4 linked regions of the Homo sapiens genome follow. The protein of the gene in region 2 purifies or fractionates together with the protein of the main gene of each other region. This does not show direct contact. Each region holds a gene or a part of one and is shown on either strand. Other genes may lie near its edges.

Region 1 (7,000 bases), on a different chromosome or scaffold from region 2:
AGTCTGGCTCCGGTGCCCATACTCCTAACCAAAATTTTATGCTGATATTCACTAGATGCACACACTAATATTACTGCTACTATCAATGGCAGTTAACATGAGTAAGTGCTTGCAATGTGCCAGGTGGCTTCTTAAGCTCTTTATACTTAGTAACTTATTTTACCTCAGTAAGAACCCTAAGAAGCAGGTACTCACTGCCATTTAATACATGAGAAAACTGAGATACAGAGAGATTACATGACTTGTTCAAGGTTACACAGCTGGGATTTGAGCCCAGAGAGATCTAAACTACCACACTCTTCTATTAATACTTCTCTACATCAGGGTAACCAATTACATGCTTAACTTATGCCCATTTCACAGAAAAAACTAAGACTCTAACCTGACAATATCAAGTAGCTTGGAGAGAAGGGCTACTTGACATGAGACAAAGCAAGGTTTTCTGGAGACCAAATCTCAGCAGTGTTGCAAAAGTGGGAGTAGTGGGCACTCGATGCCAGTGGTATTCTCTGATGCAAGAGCCTTGGAACCAACAATTCCTCCTCCCTCCCCCAACCTTTGCCTTAAAAATTCCCCATTCAGTGCAGGCAGATGCCTATAAATTTTCAGATGCCCCTACCTGGTAATGGATGACATGCTGGACTTTAGGAATATCCAGACCCCGAGCTGCCACATCTGTTGCCAAGAGAACACAGCTGGGGTAGAGAGAGAAAGCTTATTAATAATAACTAACAGCTATCTTTAATCAAATTCTTACCAACTGCTGAGCATCCTAAACATTACAGTCCTTACCAATACTCTGTAAGATATCACTTGTATACCCTTTTACAGAAAAACTGAGGCTCGGAGAGATTAACTTCCCAAGCTATCTACATGGCTATTCAGCTGTGGAGTCTGGATCCAAATTTGGGACTCATTGACCCCAACCAACATGCCATACTCTGCAATGATAAAGACTCCCTTCAGTGAGTTAAATGAGGCCATACATATTCTGGGTCAGTGACTCCTCTCCTAGCACCCTCTCATTTACTTCCTCCCAGTGGCACACAGACTTCCTTGCTCTTCCCCAAACAAACCAAGCATGCTCTCACCTCCAAGCCTTTGCACTTGCTACTCCTTAAGGCCTTAAAGGGTCTTGCCTCAGATGTCCATATGACTCACTTCATTACTTTCTTCAGCTCTCTGCTCAATTCTCACTTCATCAGAGACTGACCACACATACCCAATCTCTTTTCTCCAACCCCTGCTCGACTTACTTCTTAGGATCACTTGGCAGACTGTGGGCTTACTTTGCAATTTATTATCTCCCTCTACTAGAATGTAAGCTTCATGAGAGCAAGGACTTTGCATTACTCACTGCTGTTATTACCACCACAGAGAACAACATCTGGTTCATGGTAAGCACTTGATAAATGTGTTGGATGATGTTTCTCAATGTGTGGTTCATGGAAAGTCAAAAGTACTTGAGGTGCTTCAAAACATAAGACTCTGGCCCTTCAGGGTCCTCACTCCCTGCATGTCTGAGCTGAGGCCGGGAAATGCAATGCAAATCCTAGTTTGTAAAACATTAAACTACTGCTCTGGATCAAGGTCAGCAAACTTTTTCTGTAAAGAGCCAGAGAGCATTTCCAGCTTTGTGAACCACACAGTCTCTATGGCAACTATTCAACTCTGCCGCAAAAGAGGATATTGACAATACATAAATGGGTCTTGCTGTGTTCCAGTAAAACGTCTACTAAAAAAACAGGCAGCAGCCAGGTGTGATGGCATGCACTGGTAGTCCTAGCTACTTAGGAGGCTAAGGTGGGATTGCTTGAGCCCGTGAGTTCAAGTCTAACCTGGGCAACATAGCAAGACCCCATCTTAGAAAAAAAAAGGGCAGCAAGCAAGATTTGGCACGAGGCCTATAGTTTGCCAAGCCTTGTTCTAAGCTAATCTCAGTAAACCACTGATACTACTTACCAATTTTTAAAAACCAGTAAATCAAACACTTGTTCTAGAAACTAATTACCCCATGACCTGACAAAACACTGGCAAAAGACACTTTGTAGTCTGCCTCAACTTTCCAGGCCCTCATCTTGACAATCTGCACCCCATTCCCTGAGCATCAGTCTGGTCCAAAGGCAGATGGACAAAGACATCAGGAATAAGAAATAGCATGGGCTCTGAGGTCCGACAGGCTTGTCTGAGGCCCAGCTCTACCACTTCCAGGCAGAGAAACCTTGGGCACACTGATCAGCTTTTCTAGACCTCATTTTTCCATCTATAAATGAGAATAGTGATAATGGTAATAAGTAGTAAAGGGACTAGAAATTATTAAAGCTAACATTTAGCAATATATACATACTATGTGCTAGAGACTGTTCTAAACACTTTACACGCATGAATTTACAATCAATCTTCATAACAACCCTAGAATGGGTTCTATTATTATCCAAATAATGAGAAAATTAAAGTACAGAGAAATTAAATAACTTGACCACCTAAGGAGTGACAGAACTAGGATTTGATTTCAGGCATTCTGGTTCCAGGATCTGTGCTCTTAACCATGAATCTATTCTGCTTCCTCTTAAGGATGTTAGGAGAGTAACTGAATGTGATTCTGAATCTAAAGTGCCAGCACAGGACCTAATCTATTGTCTATACATTCAATATTATGTATTGTCACCTATATTCATTAGTATTGAAGTTTCTGTATGGCATTTAACTGCAACCAAATTCACTAAATGACAGTAACCTTGCCAAATGCTGTGCAAAAAAAAAAAAAGGCTACCTACTACTGAGACAAGGCCCCTATGACAGAAGGTGGCTTTTCTACCATTTCCCCACCATCCTGACCCCTTTTACCCCAGTAACTAACTAGAGGTTAAGCCTCTGGGGACAGTCCTAACTTACTCTTCCAGACGGGCAAACTGCTCCAGGTTTCTGAGCCTCTGCTTCTGGTGCATACAGGCATGCAGGGTCAAGGGCATGATATCAAGGACTTTGAGGAGCCCAGAGAGGCGTTTGATGCAGGAGATACTGTTGGCAAACACTAAGCTGCGGCCTGGATACTGCATCAGGAAGTAGTACAAGTAGAAGTCTTTCTCATCAGTCTCACAATGGATCTTGGTCTCTGTTAGCGTCTCCACCGTGGCCTCATTCCTTGTGAGGTCAATGACCTTGGGCTTGCCCCTCATGCCAATTTTCTGCATAAGGAGGTCAAGTTTGGCTGTTTTATCCATTTTCTTGGTGTGCTTCTTATGAAGGATTCGAGCAGGAGCCTGATGCACCAGGGTGAGTGTGGCAGAAAAAACAAGCGTTTGTCTCTTTGGGTTGTATTGGGAGTCATTGAGCATCTCTAGCAGCTGTGAGAGCTCAGCAAAATGGCCTTTCTCAACCATCCGGTCAGCCTCATCCACTACCAGGCACCTGCAGATCCAGAGAGACCCATATCATTGGTCAGCAGCGGGTTAAGAGGAATCATCTATAGCACACCCTACACTCATCCTAAACACACACACACACACACGTACACACCCCACTACCACCACCACCATCAGGCCCTCAACTAATCTCCCTCATGCACTCTTGGCTTTCTAAAGGCCAGGGTCTGGATGATACCACACCATAGCATTCTGCGATGAGAAGAAGGCATTGCCCACACCATGTCACCTAAGGCTCATTTCAGAAAAGGCAGTGAGGGGGAAAAGAGAAGTGCCATCTATTACCTGAGCTGCCGAAGGTTCCTCAAATGATAATGCTTTTCTTTAATTAATTCCCACAGCCGGCCTGGAGTAGCAACCACAATCTCAGGACGACGGTTCAGCATCCTCTGCTGTTTCTGCGTGGACATTCCACCAACCAAAATAGCAGTTTTAATTCCTATGGGACAGAAAACATAAGGGACACTTATTCAATCTGGGTGATCATTTTCTTACATGGCTGACACAGGCACCCCAGATTAGCAGAGACAGACATCAGCACAGTGTAATGCCCTAGAGCATTGCTAAAAGAGCAGGCCTGGCCAGACTGTTGACGCCACTCCTAGAGGGCTTACCAAGTCTTCTGTGATCTGAGCTCTACTTCTTCAGCCTCATTTCTTTTCTACTCCCTCCCCTCCAACCACACCAAAGGGGCTGAATTTGAACCCAGGTATGCTTACCTCCAAAGCTCTGGGAAAACGGAGCACTGGGGCACCATAATGCTGGGAGGAATATGACCTGCAGCTGTGCTACACCTCTCCTAGGAAGCCCTTCCATTCCCTCAGTTAGAATTATTCTGAAAGGTCCACTAATGCCCTGTTGTTTTCGTCTCTGGTGCAGAAATTCTCATAGTATCATGTGGGTAAAGGGCTTAGCAATAGTAACAACTTGGTAATTAATTGCTGCTTTCATTATAAAATTAAGATTCCCAGAGTGAAGCCCTTCCCAGAGTGAATTCCCTGAGAGAATTAAATCCTAATAGCTTAGAGCAGGGATCAGCCAACTTTTTCTGAAAGGGTCACTAGTGAACATTACTGACCTCATAGGCCAGATGGTCTCTGTCACAACTATTAACTCTACTCAACTTCACCTTTGTAGTACAAAACCAACCACAGACAATATAAAACCAAATGGGTGTGGGTGTGTTCCGGCAAAACTTTATTTATAAAACCAGACAGTTTGCTAATCCCTGCCCTGAGCATCTACTGTATCCAATAAATTTCCTATGCATCCACAATGGCACCAACCATGTATTATCCTTGAGGGAACTGAAAAAATGTCACTATATCAATTTTCTGTAGGGCTTAATTGTCTGGCTTATAGATGAGAGTGGCTTACCCTAGAGGGCAGGAGCCACAGCTCATTCATCTTTACCAACGAGCATTTGGGATTTACCTAGAAAATATTTATTAAATGGAACTAAACCTCACCTGTAAACCTGGCCACAGCATCAATGTGCTGTTTGACCTGGACGGCCAGCTCTCGAGTGGGAGTCAGAACCAGTCCAAGCAGAGGACGCTTTGGATATGCCTTACAGGTGGCGCTTTTGTCATCCAACTCCTGTTTTAGATTTCCAGTCTGCTCTTTATCAAGATTTTCCTCCTCATTCTCATTCTGTTTGGGAACAGGTTTCTCCCTGATCAGGGAAGAAGGCCCTTCACCAGCATCATCGTCACCAAAGAGCAACGCCTGGTCTGAGACAGTGCCTCCAGTCTTGGCTCTGGCCTCGGCTGCAATATCACTGGGCAGTGCTTCACTCTCAATTACAGTATCGTCAGGCAATGCATCAGACTCAGCTTCAGCCTTGCCTGGTGATCTAGTCTCAGCTCCGGCCTCAGTTCTGGTCTCTCCAGGTGGTGCTTCGGTGTTACTTGGAGGAGGGGCAGCATTCCTCTTCTGCCACTGCAACACCGCATGAATCATTGGGATGGCAAAGGCAAGAGTTTTCCCACTTCCTTAAAAGTAAAAAAACAAAACAAAGTAAAAACAGTGTGAATCAACAGATGAACATACTTTAGTCTGGAATTCATTCTTTTGCATAGAATAAGGTAGCCAAGTGCCACCCTGACCGACCCAAAGCTCCTCCACTCTACACAGATTTCCCCAGAAGGAACCAGAAGGCACATGTAAATTAGAACCCGAGGAAAAGTATGGCAGGCTAGCACTGAGGTCTTAGGTCACCAGTAACGAATTACAAATGTCCAAGAAATGAAACAATAAAGAGAGAAAGGGCAAGTTTTGGGTGTATGTGTTGTTTCTGTGAGGAGCAGGAAACAGTAATCCATACAATACTTTCCCAAGACTTTTCTTTGGTGAGAAAGGAGTAAAAGAAAATTTTCTTAAGTTTTCAGAAAATGTAAATATAAAACTTTTGTCTATGCCTGAACATTTTCAAACTGGCCTTTGAATGTACACAGAGTCCAAATCATCTGGGTGGTCAAAACAAAACATCTCAGGCTGAGAATTTAAAGAAGTTCCAAAGTGATAATGCCCTAGGCAGAAGCCAATAAATGCTTTCTCAAGGGAGAAACCATTACCATACATCTCCAAAAATTTTCACAATTTTCAAAGGAAATAAGCAGCTCTCAGTAAAAAATAACCACACACACAAAAATAAGATACTATAAGGAAAAAAGAGAGCAAAAACAGACACATGAAACTTTTGATAAGAAGAACAGCAGACTTATCAGAAACAATGAAAAGCCAGAAGACAGTGTAGCAATATTTTTTATTTGAATGCCTAAAAATAAAACCCTGACAATCTATAACCCTACACCCACTCAAAACAAAATGTGAAATAAAGACTTTAGGCATATAAAAGCTGAAATAATTCACCAGCAGCAAATGTAAGCTATCAGAAATATTAGTCTTTCATGCAATAGCAAAGATAACATAAAATGAAAATCTGGATGTACCCAAAGAAATAAAGAGCAACCGAAACAGTAACTACGTAGGTAAATATTTAAAAACTTCTTTTTATGGCCAGGCATGGTGGCTCATGCCTGTAATCCCAACACTTGGGGAGGTCTAGGCGGGAGGATCAAGACCAGCCTGGGCAACATAGTGAGACTCCCATCTTTAAAAAAATTTGCCAGGCATGGTGGCACACTCCTGTAGTCTTCGAAACTTGGGAGGCTGAGGCAGGAGGATTGCTTGAGCATGGGAGTTTGAGGCTGCAGTGAGCCATGATCGTGCCACTGCACTCCAGCATGGGTGACAGAGGGAGATACTGTCTCTAAAAACAAACAAAAAAACAAAACCCCTTATTTTTCTTATTTAAACATCTTTAAAAATAATTGTTTAAAGCAAATATAATAAAAATGTATTCTAGAATCTCTAACACATATGAAGTATACAACAAAAAGCACAAAGGAGGGGAGAAATGGAAAATACTCTTGTAAGGTTCTTACATTGTATGCGAAGTAGTAAATTACTTGAGGGTAAACTATAATAAAAGATATATACTATAAACCCCAAAGCAATCACTAAAAAGACGTTAAGAATTATAGCTAATAAGACAACAAAAAAGATAAAAT
Region 2 (4,636 bases):
CTCCTCTCCCGCCAGGCCCATCCTCCGAGGTGGGCAGCCTCTTCCTGGAAGACAGTTCCCCAGGCTCCTCACCGCACCTCAGCTCAGTGCTTTCTGCCCACAGCTATCTCACCATATCACCCAAGGTTAACACTTGTCCCACATCACCATTGTCAACACCAGTCTTGGTGGTCCCCCTCCAATATGCCCCCACCTTGGACCCTGGCAGCTGCTCTTTTCTTTCATTTTCTGGAGCCTGAGTCTCAGAAAGAGCAAGTTCTGGAATCTCCAACCTGTCTCCCACATGGACCTAGGCACTCAGAGAAGCACTTTTTAAGAGGATTAAATCCATGATTACAGCTCTAGCCCTAGCACATCCATTATTTCTGGCCCTGAGGTGGCCTGGGGAAGTGTTAGCAATGACCTCTGTAAAGTGCTAGGAGGTACACATCTGAGAGCTCCAAGGACTAGCTAAGAGCCTCTTCTTGCCCCTTTCCCTGCTTCTGTCCTTGCAGGAAAACCCCTCAAGTGACAGTGATGGGGATGGTTGACAGGCAGGTGTCTTTAGGCTGGAGGGAGGCTGTGGTCAGAGCTGGCACCTGGTCATCTGCGTCTCCCAGCCGCCCACCAGCTGGGGCAAGGTTGGAGGGAGGGGCTGACCCCGGCAGGACTCACTCTCCAGCACACATTTTTAATATGCAAGTTAAATAAATATTTCAATCATTTAATAGCCACCAGTCTGATACCCACTTCTAAGAGGACTGCCCTATGTCACAGTCCTTTCCTCCCTGCCCCACCTGGGGGTGCAGTGGAGTCCCTGGCTGCCCAGCCAACTGGCCCTGGAGGTACTGGGGCCTCAGCAGCACAGGCTAGAGAAAGCCCCCCACCCCCGCAAACCCCCAGCCGGAATCCCAGTCTAGGCCACTAATGGAGCTTTCTGAGAGTTAAGAAGACAGACACCACAGCCAAGTGGAATACAAAAATAGAGCCTCTCTTTTGTTTTAAAAAAAAAAAAAAAAAAAAAAACAGCAAAAACCCAACAGCAAACAATATCAACAACCGGAACCCAGGGCTCCCCCAGCACCTCCCCAGCCTGCAGAGCAGCGCACAGCTCATCTTGCTTGAGTTTTGGGTGCCCTACAGGATGAGCCTCTCTGCGGTCTGGCATTGTGGGGAGGGCCAGGCAGCACCTATCGGGGCTCGGGGGCCCAAGTCCTCTGGCTGCCGCGCAGGCTGCGCGTGAAGGGCGGGTAGTTGAGGAACTCGAAGCGCAGGCTCTGCTCGGTGGTGTGGTGGCCCCGGGGCAGCCGCTTCATGAAGTGGACCTCACGCTGGTGCTGCCGCGTCTTGGAGCCCTTGCGGGGCCGGCCCTTGCGGGTGAAGGCCATGTACCAGCCCTCGTACTTGGCATTCTGCAGCGCTGTGTAGTTGTTCTCCAGCACAATCTCCGTGAAGACGCAGTCCTTGCCTTTGCCGTTGCTCTGCAGGTAGGGGAGCCAGACACCACGTTACAGAGCCCCCCCAGCAGAGGCAGAGGGCGAGCGGCCCCAGACAGCAGGTGGGCACCCCAGCAGATGGCGAGGTGGGCAGGAGCCGCAGCCCCACCCCCTGCCTGGGCACCCGCTCTCTAATCCCTCACAACTCGCAGCCCACCCGGCAACTTCCTGTCCTCCCAGGCAGCAGTGACACATGGTTGTCTACGGAGGGGCTGGGCCCCAACGCAGAAAGACAGAGAGAGGGGCCCAGAGCCTGGCCTGCTCTGGCCTCCTGCCCACCAGTCTGGCCACCCGTCTCCCCACCTGCCCCTCTCACCCCCCCAGGACTTCGGTTCCCTGGCCCCAGGGCAGCCACCCTATGGGGGAGGGGAGGCCTGGGAGAAGATGCTAAGACCCCAGCCCCAGAAGCCCAGGAAGTGGGGAGCTCGAGGCTGGAGAGGAGCCGTGACTAATGGAGCCATTTCAGAGCTCGGCCGAGGGGCTGGGCCTGCGGCTTACTGAACATTCCAAATGCTGGTACCATGTAATTGGACATAATAGCAAAGCAATTTGGCGATTTGTTAAAAAGATATATGGAATTTACCAACCACCACCCCCCAGCCCCTTCCCTAGCCTTCATTCTTCCTCCTTCGCCTTTTATAGTTTTCATCTCTCAAACAGCTTCCTTCTCCCTCACTCCTGCACCCAATCGTGAGGTAACCCCAAGATGGCCCTGTGGCCTTCTGCCTACCTTGTTGGGATCAGAGCCCAGGACTGTCTTGGAGGAGTCCAGCCAGCCCAAGCCACTCCCTAGGTCCCGCGGACCCCACCTGCCTGCTGGGGCCTCACCTTGGCGATCAGCTTCCCCTTCTTGTTCATGCAGATGTAGAGGCCCGTCTCGGCTCCTCGGACTCGAACTCTGCTTCCAAAGGTGTCCGTCTCCACGATGAGCTTTGCTGTCAGAGAAGGTAGCAGGATGGCTATTGGCAGATCCCTGACCCCAGCTGGCCCACACACTTGTCACAGCCCAGCAGCAACTGCTCCAAAGACCAGGAACCCAAAACATGGACTCCAGCTCCAGCCCAGCTACTAACATGCTGTGCAACCCAGAGAAAGGGCTTTTCTGGACCTCGGGCCCCACCCCTGGGTTTACAGAGGGCAGTGGACGGGATTATGGTTTTCAAACTGGGTTCTCAAGAGAGGTCTTGGGACTATCAAATTGAAAAGGCTGAAGTGCCATTCCTTCCACCCTCTTTTTAAACCAGACAGTGATGTCTCTTAGATTGAGGATCTAAGTAAAATTTAATTGAATCAGAGTTCCATAGCTAATCAAAAGATCTCCGAGGATCCTTCCAACTCCAAATATTATGTGTGCGTGTCTCACAGGTCATTACAAACACTTGGGTGAAGGGGTGACCTCCAGTCCCAAGGCCAAAGATGAAAGCATTGTCTCCTGTTTCTGCCACTTTGGGTTCTAACTCACAGCTTTGGCCACCCCCAGCCCCTCAACATCACCAGGCTCTGCTCTGCTGAGAAGGTGCTAGGGATGGGGACAGCTCTCCCTAAACACACAGCCCAAAGCAGGCTGCTTTCCCAGAACCTCAGACACCTGCCAGGAGGATCCTGCCTCTTCCCTGTGGCTTCCCAGTCACCAGGGTCCCCAGCCCAGTGTCTAGAAATCAACAACTCAATTGTCTTTTCTCTTTCAGCCTCATCACAGCTGGGCTTCTCAGCCCAGTGACCAAATAGCTTCTGTGGGTGAGGAGGAGGGAGAATCCTGCCTGCTGGCCTCTTAGACTGGAGGCCAGGAGGCAGGGCTGAATTCTATGCCTCCTTTCCCATTCCCCTCCCCTTAGACAGCCAACTTGCCACAGAAGCCTGTCCTGTTCACCTCTCTGTGCAATCATCTCTTATAGGCTGTCCTCAAGAAAGTAGTGAGGGTGACTTCACTGTTTAGGAAGGGACAGAAGGCGCTGGCTCTCCTGCCGTCCCTGCCGCAGAGCCCAGCCTCTCCCCTCCCTGAGAAAGCAGTTCTTGGACTTAGCCTGCATTGACATATGGCACCTCCTCTGTCCCTGAAACCCATGGCAGGGGTTTGGGGCATCGAGGTCAGCAAGTCAGTCATCACTGCTCAGCTTGTAATGTTCCCCGCTTCACACAGGCTCAGTGCTGGGACCAGTGGCCAAGCCCCCGGTTTGGCCCCAAGTCAGCAGGGAAATGCAGCTGTCACCTCCCTGCCTGCCCACCTCCTCCTGGACCTAGCCAGTCTGCTCATCCCTCTCCCGCTCTGCCTTCCACAGCAAGAGGCAGCTATTTTTAAGGGCCAGGAAGGATGCTGACTGGAGGAGTGAGAGGATGCCACTCTGGGGATTCTGGCCAGATGCGGCAGGCAGGGATGAAGTAGGTGCCTCTGCATCTTCCTGGGGCCGGTAAAGAAGCCATTGAGACCTCTCTGCTATTCTCCCCGGACTACTCCTGTCCTGGCTGAACACCCTGAGCCTCTGTTCTTAGGGCCTCCAGCTCCTATCCTGCTGTGGGGCAGGGACTAGGGAAGGCGGGAAACCTCTTATATGGCCACGGAGAGAAGTGGACATCAGGCTTCCTCTGATGTCTGAAGATGAATTCCCCCACACCAGCTTGACTTCTGCTTCCCTCCCCGAAATCCAAGGATGCTGGGCCATTTGCTCTGACAGAGCAAACCCTGGAAGAGCCAGGCATTCGTCTCCTCTCCTTAGAAGCTGAGAAGGGCAGCAAGCAGCTAATTTGGAGGGACAAAGGGATGGTAGGCCTGCTCTGCCAGCCCAGTAGGGGAGCTCGGCCACCAGGCAGGCCGCCCCCACCCCCACCCCAGAAAGCCCGCTCTCTCCCATGTCGGTTGAATCTGCTCCGATCTGGGGAGCTGGGGCCGCAGTTTACGGCAGCTCTCCCGACCGGGCTTTTGGAAAGCTTAACATTTTCAAACCTATTCTTCCACCCCAGTGACAGATTTATCCCAGGAAAATTATGTCTCCTCCAGCTTTGAAGGGAAGTCAGCTACGTCGATGCAGAAAAAATGCAGCGAGACATACTCGATCCCCCAAACTGGCTCAAGAAGAGGAGAAAGTATTCAGGAAATGTTAAAAAAGGTGAAAGTAAGAAGAGTTTTAATCGCTCTGCCAGACGCAGGGGTCTCTCCAGAGATT
Region 3 (4,003 bases), on a different chromosome or scaffold from region 2:
CTGTCAGAAATAGGGACCTCTGTTGAAATATTTGTTGAGTGAATTACACACGTGATGACCGAATCTGTGGGAAAAGTTGCATAAATGAATGGGAAAATAGAGCCACCTCATATCCTTTGGTGACGTGGTTTTACAGGAATATAGAAACAGCATTCTCCTATGAAGCAGAAGAGCCTGAAAAATTTAGACAAAAGAAATGCATAAACCTGTGAGGAGCCTTAGAAAAGAGAGATCATTTTAGGGCTGGTGATCTTTATGTTTCTCAAAGATGAAATTGAGGTACCTAGTTCATAATCTCTCATGTGTACGTCTGAAAAGCAGATGGATGTGTGTGTTAAGAGGTTTATAAAAACCTCTTTAAAAACATTGGTATGATTTATATTCCTAAACTGGTTACTTACAATTGCTTCTCTCAGTAGGAATACTGCTCTGTCAGATTCCTTGCAAGTTTTCAGCATGCTTGTAGAGTGCACAAGCAAATGCCTAGGAAGATTTTCTAACATATTTTGTTGATAGCCCATTAGCTAACATTTTAAAACACAACTTCAAAGTGTTTATAATATTTGAAATTTAGTAAAATTAGCATATCTGTTTTGGTTTGGATACATTATTCTAATTATTGTTGGACAACCTAGTTCATGATTTTATTTGTCCAAAAATGGCTTGTTTGGTTTTAAAAAAATTAATGTGTTATGAGATCTTGATGTTATTTTTTAAAAAACCCAAAAAAGAAATTACTTTTCATTTAAAGAGAATCTGCTTCCTGCTTAAGTGGCTAATATTTTAATTAAGTCGGGAGTGAAGTTTTTCTGAGTGTCTCCTGATAAACTCCCTCTTTTATGTTGATGGTAATTAAACAGATCCCTGTGGACACCGTGGGCTCTGTGCGAGGCCCATGCTAATTGTCAGACATGAGACACTGACCAGTTGGTTTGCTCTTGAATAGTCCGCAGCGTGCTGTTAGCGCGGCAGTTTTATTTTTATGTATTGTGAGCTGTTGTCAGGGCTAACTGGGTGCCATTGTGGCTGAAGATGTTGCGCAAATTGAGGCAGATGGCTCAGATTCAGACACGTGTCATATAGAAAGGGGCAAGGGGATTGGCCCTGCAAAGTGGGGTCACAGCAGGTCACAGACCTGCTCTACACTTGTTAGTGTTTTCAAAAGCTCATGTGCAGCAACTTTGTTTTTCTCCAGTCATCCCTGCAATCAAACCCCCTCCCCCAAAAAGTGTGTGGAACATGCTTCATGTGGAAAAGGGAGGCTTGGGAGGTTCCTGTCCTCTTCCTTCATGACCCTGAGGCTCAACTGTGCATGCAGAATGAATTAGCAGGATTGACAGAAGTTCGTTATGCCTGCAACGGCTTTTCAGTCAATTGCAGTGCTTAAAAGGCTAGTTTTGCTTTTAGTTCCGTGTAATCAGTAGGTTCTTCATGTCTTGGAATTTAGAGTTAGAGCTTTAGACCTCCAGTTTCCTCTGGAAATGTTTTTGTTTACACTCTACAGAAAGAAAGATCTAATGTCCTAAACATTTCAAAACAAAGAAAAAGGGAAGCGTGAGGTTGCACTTAGCTGTCACGTGATTTTGCTTCATGTCATCATTAACATTAGAGATTTAATTTGAATATTGTTACATGAGTGAATTCATTGAAACTTAGTAAGAATTTTATAATGTACGTAAAATTATCTAACTTATTACATAATCATTTTCAGATATGAGGAGTTAAATTTTGAAGCTCTTTGAGAAAGGTACCTTTTCTTAACATGTTTTAAAAATAAAAATACAATGGCTTATTTAAAATGTCCCTATGCATGGTGAAATGTTAAATACCAAGTGGATGAATGGTTCTCAAATATATTGTAATGGAGAATTATTCACATGCATCTATTGTTTAAACTAATAAGTAAAATAGACTTCCTTTTTCTGTTCTGTTTTAAATGTGCACTAAAATTACCTGCTTGTGGTTAGCATGGGCTGGACAGTTTATTGATTTTTCAGAAGAATGCTTGGCTTTGGGTTTTTGGCAATAGGGAGCCTGCAGCAAATTATTTCATTTGACAAAAAAGAGTTATTTTAATCCTATTTGAATGTATGCTATCTCCTTTACCCTCCCCATCTTATGATAAAAGGTCTCTCTTTTTTCTCTTCCAGGTTTGCAGCTAAAACTGTGCACAGTGGGTCATTGATGCTAGTCACAGTGGAACTGAAGGAAGGCTCTACAGCCCAGCTTATCATAAACACTGAGAAAACTGTGATTGGCTCTGTTCTGCTGCGGGAACTGAAGCCTGTCCTGTCTCAGGGGTAACCTGCTTACATCTGGACTTTAGAATCTGGCACACAACAAAAGTGCCTGGCATCCACTACTGCTGCCTTTCATTTATAATAATAGCCCTTCCATCTGGCAGTGGGGGTAGAATACACTCTTGACATTCTTGTCTCCTGCTTTAGAATGCTAGTGTGTATCTATCATGTATGCAATACTTTCCCCCTTTTTGCTTTGCTAACCAAAGAGCATATATTTTACTGTCAGTTGTCTCAACTCTTGAATCCATGTGGCGTTTTCTCTGTCCTGCTGCTTCTTTTGGCCTCCTCGTTTTCCTTCTCTTTTTCGACAATGGTAGACATGAATGAGATATTTAAAGTTCATTGGAAATCTTCTTCCCTACAGCAGTAAGCAAAAATTAGCAAAGAGATAGTCTAAATGGCCTCTCAGCTTGGTATGTGAAAATGAGATCACATACTTTTTAAATCCAAATACAAAAGCATAGTCTCTGCAAGATTTTGTTCTTTGAATTTCTTGATATTGTAATTGATTATTGATAACTGTCATCATGAAATTATCTCTCAATAATAAGATAAATAAACTAGCATATGAATCATATTTGTCTTTGCATTTTTAATGAGAAACTATTAATAATCCTGAAGTTCATATGCTAAAGTTTTCTTATTTTAAAGCAAGTATTTTGAGTGTTACATTATGCAGAGAAGCAATGTGGTTTAGTTAGCGAAAGAAAAACCACTTCCAAACCAAGTAAATTTTCTACTTATAGTTTACTCCAAGGAAAAAAAATTGGTGTATTTAATAACAAAAACAAAAATCTTCATATTGCAAAATAAACATCTTCTAGGTAGTTTTGATCTATTAGTAGATATCTGATTATGTGGCCTGCTGAATAAATTCTTTGAATCTCATTTTTCCTTATGCCCAACTTTGGAAACTAACTAGCATAAACTTATAGAAATGTTTAAAACTAGTTATATGATCAACCTATTAGCATCTTTTCCTAGAGTATTTGTTTTATTTGCTACCTTAAGTTACTGTTTTCAAGGTTGTTCTATAATCAGAGAACTTTTCTAATACTTTCGTACCTTTTTAAAACCAGCTGAAATTTTACTTCCTTTTTGAAGCAAGGTAATGGACTTTCAGGTAGTATAAGCTACTCAGTTCTTTTTGTATAGAGCCACATACATAATGATTTTTAAAAAGTAAAAAGGAAGTGACTGTACATTGCTTGAAGCATTATAGGAAGGCTGAAAAGAAAAGAATGGAATTTTCTTGGAACATACATATTGAAAAGAACAAAACAGAGTCGAAAAATTATTTAAATTTTCAAGCTGGTGGGATGACAAGAGTAAACAAAATTGTTAAATTTTCCTGCTCCAGAAAGAAATATAGCCCTGAATCTCCGGGAAGAGAATGTACAGAAGTGCAATGTACAGAAGCCACGTGTACATTTTGTGCCAATTCCGTACCATGTGTACATTCTGTACCATTCTGTACCAATGTATGGAAGCCACGAGTTCCACTTCCCTCTGGAGCCTGGGCGCTGTGGTAACACACCCAAAAGCCCCTTTGTAATCGCAGGTCGTTGGCATTTCCATATTAGCCTTATTGCTCAGAGCTTCATAACTTTGAATTTTAAGTCAATAACTTTTTGAAATGTCAGACAGAATTTGACAGGTTTAATACCTGTTTTCTGAGGAAGAAAAAAAAATTATATCCA
Region 4 (8,130 bases), on a different chromosome or scaffold from region 2:
GGATTTTCTTTTTCCGGACATTATTAAAGATTTTTAGAAAGTTTTCATATTTGTGGATGGTCATTTTAATGCTACTATAAGAATACAGGGAAGTAATGAATATTTTTTCTTTTTTCCTGAGAAGGAGTTTCACTCTGTCACCCAGGCTGGAGTGCAGTGGTGCAATCTCAGTCCACAGCAACCTCCATCTCCCGGATTCAAGTGATTCTCCTGCCTCAGCCTCCTGAGTAGCTGGGATTACAGGTGCACACCACCATGCCTGGCTAATTTTTGTATTTTTTTCAGTAGAGACAGGATTTCACTATGTTGGCCAGGCTGGTCTCGAACTCCTGACATAAAGTGATCTGCCTGCCTTGGCCTCCCAAAGTGCTGGGATTACAGGCATGAGCCACCACTCCCAGTCATGAATTTTTAACATCACTCTTTGAGTTATGTATATTAGAGAATAAAAAGAAGCATATGAGTAAAGCACCAAAAGGGGCCCACAAGAAGTCTTTCTTGACTCTTGAGGCTAGATTAGATGCCCAACCAGTATATATACACACACACATATAATATATATATATACACATATATACATGTATATATTATACGTATATACATATATATGTCTATATATACATATATGTATATATAATACATTTGTGTGTGTGTACACACATACTATTGCAACACTCATGACATGGTGGTGTTTTCATAATTAGCGTGTAGATAGTCAATATATGTGGGCAGAAACCCATGTCTGTCTTATTTACCGTTAGTATTTGCATTAGCACAGCACGTGTCTACATAGTATGTGCTTTACCGATACAAGTGAAGAATGATAATCAACAAAGCAAACAATCTTTGATAGTGAGATGAGAAGCTATAATAAAGCTTATCTGTCTGTTGCTCCTGATTGCCTTTTCTCTGTTCATCTAGAGTAAGAGTAAATAGAAGAGGCTTATTCAACAATATTCTGTATTTATAGAAAGACATTTTAGTAATACTCTTTCCTCTTTTAAAAATTACAATAACTATTGTTAATGACTAATCTTAATTTATATATACAACTTTTAAACAGGTCAAAGAAAGTATCTGTTCCATCAACTGTGATATCCAGAGTGATTGGAAGAGGAGGCTGTAATATCAATGCTATTCGGGAGTTTACTGGTGCACACATAGATATTGATAAACAGAAAGACAAGACTGGAGACCGGATAATCACTATAAGGCAAAACTTTGTCTCTTACATTTTCTTCCTTTATTTTATTGCACTATAGCTTAATGAAATACAGCCATATGAGTTTTCAGTGGAACTTTGTGTTACATAGTATACTTTTTAAAATGGGAATTTTATTAGTGTTTGAGAAGATAAATTTTATAGTTTTCTTTTTTCCTAGGTAATACACTTTTGTGAAGTGTTTCAGAGACTTTTATAGGAATTTGTATGCATGTGTAGCAAAGGTTTAAATAAATAATTTCTGTACATAAACTGTTTATATGACATTCTTAAAAATTTGTTCTGAGACTTTTAGGGAGCGCATTTCTAACATTTTAAGCAGTGGGTTTTTGTCTTTCTCAAATAACCTTTGAGATTTGTTATTCTGAGATTGTGTCTTTAGAATTTGAGTTCTTGGGCTGGGCACGGTGGCTCACGCCTGTAATCCCAGCACTTTGGGAGGCTGAGGCGGGCGGATCACCTGAGGTCAGGAGTTCGAGACCAGCCTCAACATGGGGAAACCCCGTCTCTACTAAAAATACAAAATTAGCCGGGCATAGTGGTGCATGCTTGTAATCTCAGCTACTCGGGAGGCTGAGGCAGGAGAATTGCTTGAACCTGGGAGGCAGAGGTTGCGGTGAGCCGAGATCGAGCCATTGGACTCCAGCCTGGGCAACAAGAGTGAAACTCCCTCAAAAAAAAAAAAAAAAAAAAGAATTTGAGTTCAGATTTGAATCTGAAGTGAAGATATAACTTATCTTGAATAACTCGTCGAATATGTCTATGCCTGAATATTCTTAAAATAAAAGTGATGTTCTAAGAAATCATAAGAATGTAGGAAGCTATATTTAATTACTTTAAAGTAAATTCATGTTCCTTTGAAAAAGAGTTTTATATTTTTTACATGGCAGATATAAGTTTGTATGAGGCAGATGCCCCTTTGCATTATATAGGAGAGCTAATAGTTACATCATACCTCAAAAATAAGAAAGCAAGTAGCCATCTCTATTTTATTCATCGTCCTCTCCTTCTGACTGGTTTTCCCCTGGGTATTTGGGTAGTCACAGCCTATCTTATCTAGAAAAGAGGGAACCAGATACCCTTTATTGGTAATTGCTCCCTTGAGTTTCCATAAATATCAAATATTTTCCTGAAGATCCAGCACTAAGGTTTTATATGGCTATTTTTGGCACTATCAGGATTCCTGCATCATTTTAAGACATCTTCCCAGAGGAGTTACAATAATTATCCTATTAATAGACAAACTACTAATGAATTTTTAGTAGACGGAGTCATCCCAGATACCAAGATTTAAAATAAAATACTGTTTTCTTACTCAGTTGTATTATTTTCCTTGTTTACTTCTATTATTTTTAGTGTTGATTAACTGTTTCAATATTTTTAGGATTAAATGTTTCAATAACATTGTGGATTACATAGGCTTTTATGTGCAGTGGTTTTTCTAACTGTAGTGTATTTTACAGTAGGAAAATGGTTTCTTAGTCTAAGGAAACAATAGTGAAATGTATTTTTGAAAAATAAGTCATTTACTATTCTTCTGAAAAATAAAAGTAGTAATTCAGGACAGTTTATTGCTTTGTTTGTAGAATACCTCAGGAATGGTAAGAAAATTGCTGCCCAGCTTTTGTTATCTGTCCTTTGTTTGTATGTGTGTATGTATATACACACAAAACTGTGTGTGTGTTTGTGTACATAAATACATATTAAAAACACTTTACATACTCAAAAGTAGGGAAAATTCTACCTAATTTTTTTTTCTCAATTTATAGGGGTGGCACTGAATCAACAAGACAAGCAACTCAATTGATTAATGCTTTGATCAAGGATCCAGACAAAGAAATTGATGAACTTATTCCAAAGAATCGTTTGAAAAGCTCCTCAGCAAATTCCAAAATAGGGTCATCAGCACCTACCACCACTGCTGCTAACACTTCCTTAATGGGAATTAAAATGACAACTGTAGCTCTGTCATCAACATCTCAAACTGCCACAGCACTCACTGTGCCTGCAATTTCTTCTGCATCCACTCACAAAACCATTAAGAACCCAGTGAATAATGTGAGGCCTGGTTTTCCAGTTTCTCTTCCATTAGCATATCCTCCTCCACAGTTTGCACATGCTTTGCTTGCTGCTCAGACTTTCCAGCAGATCCGTCCACCAAGGTTGCCCATGACCCACTTTGGAGGTACTTTTCCACCAGCTCAATCCACTTGGGGTCCGTTTCCTGTCAGGCCTTTGAGCCCTGCCAGAGCTACTAACTCGCCTAAGCCTCACATGGTGCCTCGCCATAGCAATCAGAATAGCAGTGGTTCTCAGGTGAATTCAGCAGGTTCTTTAACTTCAAGCCCAACAACTACAACCAGTTCATCAGCTTCAACGGTGCCTGGTACATCTACAAATGGCAGTCCAAGTTCACCTTCTGTCCGAAGGCAGCTTTTTGTCACAGTTGTGAAGACATCCAATGCCACCACAACAACAGTCACAACCACGGCAAGCAACAACAACACTGCACCCACAAATGCCACATATCCTATGCCTACTGCCAAAGAACACTATCCAGTATCATCCCCATCTTCCCCATCACCACCAGCCCAGCCAGGAGGGGTTTCTAGAAACAGCCCTTTGGATTGTGGATCAGCATCTCCAAATAAAGTGGCATCTTCCTCCGAACAGGAAGCAGGTAGTCCACCAGTAGTAGAAACAACAAACACTAGACCTCCAAACAGCAGCAGTTCTTCTGGGAGTTCATCAGCTCATTCTAATCAGCAACAACCTCCGGGATCTGTTTCTCAGGAACCAAGACCACCTCTTCAGCAGTCTCAGGTTCCTCCCCCGGAAGTTAGAATGACTGTTCCTCCTTTAGCAACAAGTTCTGCTCCAGTGGCGGTGCCTTCTACTGCCCCAGTGACTTACCCTATGCCTCAGACACCAATGGGATGCCCCCAGCCTACTCCTAAAATGGAAACCCCTGCTATTAGACCACCCCCTCATGGCACAACTGCCCCTCACAAGAATTCAGCTTCAGTGCAAAATTCATCTGTTGCAGTCCTCAGTGTCAATCACATTAAAAGACCTCACAGTGTTCCCTCTTCTGTCCAGCTACCTTCGACCTTAAGTACACAAAGTGCTTGTCAGAATTCAGTACATCCAGCAAATAAGCCTATTGCTCCCAATTTCAGTGCCCCCTTACCATTTGGGCCCTTTAGCACATTGTTTGAAAACAGCCCTACTTCTGCTCATGCCTTCTGGGGAGGATCTGTTGTTTCATCTCAGTCAACACCAGAATCTATGCTATCAGGAAAATCCTCATATTTGCCAAATTCAGATCCTTTACATCAGTCTGATACTTCCAAAGCTCCAGGTTTTAGACCACCATTACAGAGACCTGCTCCAAGTCCCTCAGGTGAGTTTATATTTTCTGAGATTCTGCAGCTGTTCATTTGCACAAGTGATGTGAAAATTCTTGGTCATTTTCTAATATTTTTATTCTCTGGACGATATAGACAAAGATTGTTGGATTTAGTTAACTCAGATGCTGTTGTTTGTGTTTAGTATGGTGTTATTTTTAAAAATCTTTTTAAAAGCTACCATAGATTTTTATTTAATTTTCCATAAATAAGTCTTCTGATCAGGCGGGGTTTTTTTGTTTGTTTGCTTTTTGAGACAGAGTCTCGCTCTGTCACCCAGGCTGGAGTGCAGTGGCATGATCTCAGCTCACCGCAACCTCTGCCTCCCAGATTCAAGTGATTCTCCTGCCTCAGCCTCCCGAGTAGCTGGGATTACAGACGTGCACCACCATGCCTGGCTGATTTTTGTATTTTTAGTAGAGATGGGGTTTCACCATGTTGACCAAGCTGGTCTCGAACTCTCAACCTCAGGTGATTCACCCACCTTGGCCTCCCAAAGTGCTAGGATTACAGGCGTGAGCCACAGTTCCTGGCCTAGGCGTGTTTTTCTCTCTCAGAAGTCTTTCATGTTTTAATTTAATAAGGTACTGTCACCAAAAGTTTACATTTATTACAAATACAAAATAACAGATTTAAAAAATTGGGTTTCATTTCGCATTATCTTTTTTATTTCTAAAATAATTTTAAAAATAGAGCTACACAGTCTGATATGGTAGCCAATAACCATGTGTACTTTTTAAATTTAAATTAATGAAAATTTTAAAAATAAAAAAATTAGCTTCTTAGGCTACCCATATTTAAGTGCTTAAAAAACACTTGTGGCTGGTAGCTACCATATTGGACAGCAAAGATCTAGAACATTTCTATTATCCAAAATTCTACTGGGCAACACTGATATATGTAGAAGATACAAAGATCTCCTGATTGTAAGCTATTGCTTTTTTAAAAAAAACTTTTTACTTTAAAATATTTTTAGATTTATAGAAGAATTCTATAATTCCTCAGCTTCCCTTCATGTGACCATCTTACATAACCATGATACATTTCGAAACTAAAAAAATTAATATTGGTGTAGTACTACTAACTAGACTACAGATTTTAGGCAGATTTCACAAGTTTTTCAAGTAATATCCTTTTTCTATTGTAGGATCTAATCCAGGATGCCAGTTTCCATTTAAAGCTGTTGGGTTTTAATATAAGCATTTCAAGTAATTAAAGATAGTCCACGTAAGAGATGGACACACTATGGTCTATGGGCCAAATTTGGCCTGCTGCCTGTTTTTACATTTCTTAAATGTTTAAAAAAAAATTTTTTTTTTTAAGAATAGGCTTGGCACGGTGGCTTGTGCCCGTAATCCCAGCACTTTGGGAGGCTGAGGTGGGTCGATTGCTTAAGCCCAGGAGTTCCAGACCAGCCTGGGCTTAAGGGGAGACCCCATCTCTACAAAAATATAAAAATTAGCTGGGCATGGTGGTGCATACCTGTAGTCCCAGCTACTTGGGGGGCTGAGGTGGAAGGATGACTTGAGCCCTAGAGGCAGATGTTACAGTGAGCTGAGATCACACCTCTGCATTCCAGCCTGGGTGGAGACCCTGTCTCAAAAAAAAAAAAAAAAATTTAAAAAGAATAAACATGCAACACAAAATATGAAATTTTAATTTCAGTGTTTGTAGAGAAAGCTTTACTGAAACACAGCAATGCCCATTCATTTGCATATTGTATAAGGCTACTTTTATGCTACAATGACAGAATTGAGTAGCTGGGACAGAGACCATGTGACCTGCAAAGCCTAAAATATTTGGTATTTGGCTCTTGGTTGCCAACTCGTTATCTGTGTTATTGGAAATATGACATTCCGGGACAAAAATTTCCAAGTTTAATGGGAACTCAATGTTATTTTTACCTATTTCTGTAACATGTAAATAAAATTTAATGAAGGTGGTCAGTAAATATTCTTTGCTAAAAGTCAACTGAAATATTTATGTGTACTATGAAAAATAATTTATTTTATATTAAAACAATAGAATCAATATAATTAGATTTTAGATCATTATGTGCCAGTGCGTAGGAAATGCTTTAAGTTTGATTTTTATAGTAGTTGGAATTTAATACTTTACCTTTCCAAAAATGTGATAATCTAGGTGTGGGATTCAGAAAGGCTAAAATTAAGCTTTAGAGAACAAAAAAATAAATTCCTATTTTTTGAAAAGGTATAGAAGAAAGACCTCTGTAAGAAAGGTGAGGTTTTTAGGGAGTGTATAGTTGATGAGAGCCAAAATTAGCATTGAAGTTTAACTTACAAGTCAATTACCTAATTCAGGTCATTTTGAGTTAAAGATACTCCTTTTATTACATAGGAAGTATGTCCTTTTATTTTCTCCTAAACCTCTCTCAGATCCTAATTTTCACTTCTCTCTACTTCTTCCTAATTCATTTTGTGTTCCATATTTTTCTTCCTTTGTTTAACTTTTCTTATGTAAATAATTTGATTATTTGTATTTTAGACTCAGATCTGTTTTTATAGTTTGTATTTTGAAAAGTTATTTAAGTCACATAAAGATCTAAGGACAGAATAAGCAGCATAGTAAATACTTGGTATTTCCACATTTATTAATATATTCTCTGCTTGTTAACATCTTTTCAAACTCTCTCCCTCACTCCCCTCCCTTCCTCTCTCCCCTTTTCCTTCTTCCCTCCTTTTTTTTCCTCTCTTTTGCTGCTTCCTTTTCTTCCCCCTCTCTTGTCTTGTCTTACCTGTCTCTCCCCTTCTTCATCCTTCTTTCCTCCTTTTCCCCCTTTCTATCCTATCTCTATTTTCTTTTCTTCCCCATCTTTTGTCAAATCATGAGAAGATAACTTTCAAACATGATACTTTACCCCTAAATACTTTGATATGGATCTTCACAATGTTTGCCTTCACAGCTATGCCACTATTACTGCACCCAATAAAATGAGGATGAATTTGATAATAACACCCAACATAAAATGCCATTTTCCCAAATATATTCTTTCTGACTATGTGTGTCTCTTTTCCTTGCCATTTGATCCAAGACTCAATCAAGATTCACACATTACTTTTGGTTGTTATGTGTCTTTGGTCTCCCTCTGTCTAAAGTATTCTACTGCCTTCCTCTGTAATTCTTGACATTGACTCTGTGGGCAAGTTTAATTCAGTGATTATGTCAATCCATGATTAGATTCAGATCAAATATTTCAGGAAGGAGCATCATATAGGTGATGTTTTGAACCTCACACTGCATTTTATCAATGACAGATTGGCTGGATGTGGTGGCTCACACTTGTAATCCCAACACTTTGGGAGACTGAGACAAGAGGCTCATTTGAGGCCAGAAATTTAAGACCTGCCTGGGCAACATTGTGAGACCTTGCCTCTACAAAAATAAATAAAAAAGCTGGGTGTGGTGGCATGTACCTGTAATCCCACCTACTTGGGAGGCTGAGGCAGGAGGATCACTTGAGCCCAGTAGATGGAGGCTGGG

Evidence for each region.
Region 1: the proteins of FGF8 (region 2) and DDX24 purify together in Homo sapiens (affinity purification with mass spectrometry; 2 studies listed by BioGRID and IntAct, with this or other methods). This does not show direct contact.
Region 3: the proteins of FGF8 (region 2) and AP3B1 purify together in Homo sapiens (affinity purification with mass spectrometry; 2 studies listed by BioGRID and IntAct, with this or other methods). This does not show direct contact.
Region 4: the proteins of FGF8 (region 2) and ANKRD17 purify together in Homo sapiens (co-immunoprecipitation; 3 studies listed by BioGRID and IntAct, with this or other methods). This does not show direct contact.

What each region holds. Positions count from the first base shown.
Region 1 is NC_000014.9:94,057,203-94,064,202, forward strand, and holds part of DDX24 (ATP-dependent RNA helicase DDX24), read right to left. Parts: intron 5,420-7,000; coding exon 4,895-5,419; intron 3,865-4,894; coding exon 3,711-3,864; intron 3,412-3,710; coding exon 2,896-3,411; intron 696-2,895; coding exon 620-695; intron 1-619. UniProt on the Homo sapiens protein: ATP-dependent RNA helicase that plays a role in various aspects of RNA metabolism including pre-mRNA splicing and is thereby involved in different biological processes such as cell cycle regulation or innate immunity.
Region 2 is NC_000010.11:101,769,160-101,773,795, forward strand, and holds the end of FGF8 (fibroblast growth factor 8 isoform F precursor), read right to left. Parts: intron 2,418-4,636; exon of another isoform or gene 2,411-2,417; coding exon 2,304-2,410; intron 1,538-2,303; exon of another isoform or gene 1,461-1,537; coding exon 1,170-1,460; 3' UTR 950-1,169; downstream 1-949. UniProt on the Homo sapiens protein: Plays an important role in the regulation of embryonic development, cell proliferation, cell differentiation and cell migration. Required for normal brain, eye, ear and limb development during embryogenesis.
Region 3 is NC_000005.10:78,001,203-78,005,205, reverse strand, and holds the end of AP3B1 (AP-3 complex subunit beta-1), read left to right. Parts: intron 1-2,150; coding exon 2,151-2,304; 3' UTR 2,305-2,880; downstream 2,881-4,003. UniProt on the Homo sapiens protein: Subunit of non-clathrin- and clathrin-associated adaptor protein complex 3 (AP-3) that plays a role in protein sorting in the late-Golgi/trans-Golgi network (TGN) and/or endosomes.
Region 4 is NC_000004.12:73,087,162-73,095,291, reverse strand, and holds part of ANKRD17 (ankyrin repeat domain-containing protein 17), read left to right. Parts: intron 1-1,063; coding exon 1,064-1,213; intron 1,214-2,991; coding exon 2,992-4,625; intron 4,626-8,130.